2 separate regions of the Homo sapiens genome follow, and region 2 is linked to region 1. The links come from fine-mapping of genetic effects on gene expression. Tissue or cell type: whole blood. Region 1 holds a variant in brackets; the other region holds the start of a gene. All regions are shown on one strand. Distances are between the middles of the regions.

Region 1 (2,688 bases):
TATTTGCTGACAGACTGCCCAGGACAGACAGGACATGCCCAGACAATGAATGTTTCTGCTGTGAAAGTCCTTGGCTTTGAGCTTGCTCCTCCACACTAATCCAGTAATGCATATCCTTATGTGGCTCATTTTCTGGCCTACTTAAAGGGAATTAGAGGTATTTGTTTCCACGACCAGACCACAGCATGAGGAAAATTGTGAGCCTTCTGGCACAGTAAATCCTTGAAGACTCTGCCAACTCTTCTCAATCCTTCACTTCCTTCTCCTCCCATTCTGGAAGATTTCAGGCCCACTGGGGAACAAGGGGCTGCTGAGAGTAAAGGCAAGTTGGGCCATTTCTAGTTCATCTGCCTCCTGCTCTGCCTTATGCCTACCTCCCAATGCCCAGTCATCTCTAGTTTTCTGGGACAGACATGAGTTTATTTCATTTCATTAGCATCTTTAAACATATACACACCTATATAACTTCATATAAATGGTAAAGTGTGATTGCATTATACATATTGTAATTTCACTTGACACAATCTTTTTTTTTTTTTTTGAGACGGAGTTTCGCTCTTTGTTGCCCAGGCTGGAGTGCAGTGGCGTAATCTCAGCTCACTGCAAACTCCGCCTCCCAGGTTCAAGCAATTCTCCTGCCTCAGCCTCCCAAGTAGCTGGGATTACAGGCACCCACCACCACACCTACCTAATTTTTGTATTTTTAGTAGTGACGGTGTTTCACCATGTTGACCAAGCTGGTCTTGAACTCCTGACCTCAGGTGATCCGTTCACCTCGGACTCCCAAAGTGCTGTGATTACAGGCGTGAACCACTGCGCCCAGCCTACTTGACTCAATCTTATAAAAATTTATTTCCTCTTTCAGGGATCCCACCTCTGTAACCTCCCTGTCACATCAGTCCCCTCCATAAGCACCTTCCAGGCTACCCGTGTTAACAACCTTTGTGATTATATACCAATATAGATGCATATAAGATTTGCCTTATCATTTACAGTCACTTTATAGTCACCCTATGCACACTTCATGCATCTTGCTTTTCTCACATGACAGCATTTTATAGGAATCACTCCAAGTAAATTGGTACAGTTTTAATTAATCCTTTTTCTTTTTTCTTTTTCTTTTTTTTTTTTTTTTTTTTTTTTGAGATGGAGTCTCACACTGTCGCCCAGACTGGAGTGCAGTGGCTCGATCTCAGCTCACTGCAACCTCTGCCTTCCAGGTTCAAGCGATTCTCCTGCCTCAGCCTCCCAAGTAGTTGGGATTACAGGCACCTGCCACCAC[G/A]CCTGGCTAATTTTTTGTATTTTTAGTAGAGATGGGGTTTCACTATGTTGGCCAGGCTAGTCTCAAACGCCTGACCTCGTGATCCACCCAGCTCAGCCTCCCAAAGTGCTGGGATTACAGGTATGAGCCACTCTGCCCGGCCAGTTCTAATTAATTCTTTTTAATGGCCACAGAGCCTCTCTGGTGATGTGTATTTCATCATGATTTTTTTAACCACTTTCCCACTGATGGGTATCTACATTGTGTCCAGGTGTAACTGTTTGCCACAATAACAACCCTGTGATAAACACCCTTGAACACATTTTCGTTATTACTGGTGGTTTTCTAGCTGTGAGATAATTTCTTAGCAATAAATTTCTGGGTAGAAGAGTATCTTTTTTATTTTAACAATTTTAATAGATATTGCCAAATTGCTTTTCTAAAAGGCTTTTCTAAAAGTATTCACACTTTTCCTCATATCCCTTCTGTTATGGAATGAATTGTGTCCTTCTAAAATTCATATGTTGAAGCCCTATCCTCTAAAGTGACTATATTTGGAGATAGGGCCTTTAAAGAGGTAATTAAGGGTAAATGAGGTCATAAGGGTGAGACCCTGAACCAACAGGACTGTAGCCTTACAAGAAGAGGAGGAGACACCAGGGATGCATGCACAGAGAAAAAGGCCCTGTGAAGACATGATGAGAAAGTGGCCATCTGCAAGCCAAGGAGAGAGGCCTCAGGAGAAACCAGCCCTGCCGGCACCTTGATCTTGGACTTTCAGCTTCTAGAACTGTGAGAAAATAACTTCCTGTTGTTTGAACCACCCAATCCGATTTGTTTTTTTGTGTGTGTGTGGGGGGGTTTTGTTTGTTTTTTTGAGATGGAGTTTTGCTCTTGTTGCCCAGGCTAAAGTGCAATGGTGCGATCCCGGCTCACCTTAACCTCCGCCTCCTGGGTTCAAGTGATTCTCCCGCCTCAGCCACCCGAGTAGCTGAGATTACAGGCATGCGCCACCACGCCCGACTAATTTTGTATTTTTAGTAGAGACAAGGTTTCTCCATGTTGGTCGGGCTCATCTTGAACTTCTGACCTCAGGTGATCCGCCCACCTCGGCCCCCCAAAGTGCTGGGATTACAGGTGTGAGCCACCATGCCCAGCCAATCTGTGGTATTTTCTTGTGGCAGACCAAGAGGATAGGAACAATTAAAACGGGGTGCATGGAGGGGCTTCCCAGACTCCTCCATGGGGCGCAGTCCAAGTGCCTGGGAGTGCTGAGCAACACTGGTGGTGGCTGTGAGGGACCTCAGCTCAGAGTGAGCTACAAATGCAAGGATGCAGTCCTCATCTTTGAGCACTCTAAATACGGAGGGAGCTACAGTTGTTCAATGGAAACAAGGTCTATACACCCCCTGCTATAGTTTGGAGGT
Region 2 (2,688 bases), 85 kb before region 1:
TAGATCCTCCTGCCTTAGGAGCCCAATATAGGGAGGCTTTATAAAAATCCTTGTGCCAAGAGAAACGTTGTAAACTCTAACTCCGCGCTCTCACACTGAAGTCAAAACAAGGTTGTTGTTTTTCTCTCCTATTCACTAAATCCACAACAGCAGGAAAACCCATCTAACTTTGCCAACTGCCTTCCCCTCCCCTCCCTTCCCCCACCAATCTGTGGTGGATTGGGCCCCTTGGCCTCACTTCTACCTTCCCTCAAGGTGGGGAAATCAGAGCGAAAGAGTCCTGGGAGAAATTTTTACAGTCTGCTTTCCTTGGGGCCCACCCCTGGTTGGAAACTGACTTAAGCTTTCATGCTGTGTAATGTGGAAAGATCCAGCAATTAATGGTCATTGCCAGAGGACACCCCTTTGAAAGAAAGAGGCTGCCACTGTATTCCCCTAAAAACTGTGGGACAGGGCTCACGACTACACTCCCCACCATTCTCTGCAGCAGGGGCTCCTGAGACAGAGCTGAACCTTCTCCAAAACGATGTGGGGTGAAGAGCAGGGAGTTGCAACTCCTACCTCCCCTAGGAGTGCTGGCCAGGTTGCCGTGGGAACTGATAAAGCCCCAGTGCAGGGAGAAGCCTCTCAGAGGTGAGAATCACCTGGGGCATTTGGATGAAATGCCAGTCCAGGCCCCTGTGCAGATCCACTAAATCAGAATCTGTAGGGATGGGGCCTGAAAACTGGGTACTTTTAATTCTCGCCCAGTGATTCTGATGTGCAGACAGGGTTGAGAACCAGCGGTTAGCCTAATCAATTCTAAGAGAAAACCTCCATCTCTCCTCCGTCACAGGAACCTGTCACCTCTTAAAACCACAATGAGGTGGAGAGCCAACTAGGGCACACTGAGCGTGGTCACGGGGCGACGAAACCACCACGCACCGTTCCCCAGAAGCACACACTGGCTGGAAAGTTCCAGCTGGAGCCAAAGGTCGCAGTCCAGGTGCTGCATCTTTTTAAAGGAAACACACCCAAAGGCACTAGGACAGAGCCTTAGCTAGCGATTTAGATCCAGCCCTATCTGACGCCGCCAGCAGCACCACGAAGACACTTCCACGAGCACACCCAGCGGGGCGCCGAGGTGCCGCCCAAGAGGCTCCTTGGCGCCGGGGCCGCCTGACGTCAGTGGGACGGCCCTGGGCTTGGGCGCGCCACAGCCCCGCCCCTCGGGCGCCAGTCTCGGTCGCGGGCATTGAGCGGCTGGAGTCTGGCGACTGCCCCACGCCCAGCCGTGGGTCGCTAGACGGCGGGCGCACCCGTCGTTCTGGACACGCTTAGTCGGCCCAGCGAGAGGGCGAAGGAGCCGCGGGCGCGTCCCCGCCAACCCTGCTCGCCCGCGCCGAGGCGGGCCACGTGACAGCCCGGGGCCCCGCGCCCCGCCGCGCCGCCTTACTTGGTGTACTCGCGCAGCCCCTTGGCGAACCACACGACGCTGCGGTACAGGGACATGCCGGGAGCGCCCCACGCCTAGCCCCACCGCGCTCCCGGCGCGGCCTCCGCCCTGGTCCCGCCCCCCGGGAGTCGCCCGCCCTGACATCATCCCGGTTATGTAAGAGCCGCGGCTTCCGGTTCCTTGCTCCACCGGTAAGGCAAGGGGTCTCGGGGCCGGCCGGTCGACTCCGCCCCAGCCTCAGAGGGTGGAGTGAGGGCGGACCGGCCCTGGTGGGGGCCGCAGTCGAGGTCCGCAGTCTCCTCGGGGTCGAAATCGGGCATCAGCGCCGTTTAGAGAACACCGTCCTGCTGGGCATGGCCGGGATGCGAAGATGGCCCTGCAACGCACCTCCTAGAATTTGGTTACCTAGAAAACCATGTGGAATAAAACGACGAGGCTTATGATATTTAAAAGACTTCTGCATCGAATTGGTGTTATCATAAGGGTTATTTTAATAACTGGCATTCTCTAAGTTTCTACACGTGTTGGGGGATGCAGTGCCGTGCCACATTTCCCGTCTCCAGCAAGCGCAGTCAGATTGGCGACATCGCAGGCAAGAGGCAGGGCTGGGGCTCCCACCCGAGAAGTAATTGTCTCCAAAGTTGGACTTTTGCCACTGGTTCTGCGACTTCATGCAATGCCAGGGAGAGCCCCTTGATTTCCCCCAAATCCTCATCAGCCTCTTTCCACCCAAGCCCAGATGAACAGTGTGAGTAAAAAAGAGTGTGGTTGCTGCGTGAACCCAGATCTCAGACTAGTCATCCAGCCCCATTATGTAGGACTCAGACACCCCTGTCCACATCTAACCTCCAGCCCTAACGCCACATTAGAAATGGGGGTCTTACTGCTGCTGTCACTCCTAGTCACCCTGTTAAATTCTATACCGGTTTACCCAAGTCGCCCAGAGACTGGGCCCCACTTACATAAGCTGAAGAGACCAGCTGCTTTAATAGCCTCATTACCTAGGATATAGGATCACTGTCCAACCTCACTCCACAGTGGGCAAGTTTTTACTTCAGAATAACTTTTGAAATAAATTTCCCCGGAACAGCTCGCCCCTCTCAACAGGACTCTGAGGCTCCACTACGTTGCTGTTATTCCTGACAGAGTGATGAAAGGAAATTTAAACAAGTGGCATTTTGTAAAACCACCCCAGCCTGTGTGACTTTCAATGCCTGTCCGATTTGGCTGGGAAAATATTTTAGATCCCCAGG

The links. PIP is the estimated chance that this variant, and not a neighbour inherited with it, causes the effect.
Region 2: DHRS12 starts here. The variant in region 1 is fine-mapped to the expression of DHRS12 in whole blood (Lepik 2017, PIP 0.95).

Annotation. Positions count from the first base shown.
Region 1 is chr13:51,887,521-51,890,208 of GRCh38, forward strand. It overlaps a transcript of TMEM272 not described here. Among named protein-coding and RNA genes, the nearest start is that of CCDC70, 27 kb to the left of the region's middle. The variant G/A (reference allele first, on the strand shown) is at 1,283.
Region 2 is chr13:51,802,619-51,805,306 of GRCh38, forward strand. DHRS12 (dehydrogenase/reductase 12) reads right to left here and starts at 1,545. Exons shown (of 9, transcript NM_001377533.1): 1 at 1,436-1,545. It overlaps LOC107984561 (a long non-coding RNA gene), which reads left to right and starts at 1,218. Exons shown (of 2, transcript XR_007063805.1): 1 at 1,218-2,183. RefSeq lists a silencer at 1,106-1,745 and an enhancer at 2,296-2,425.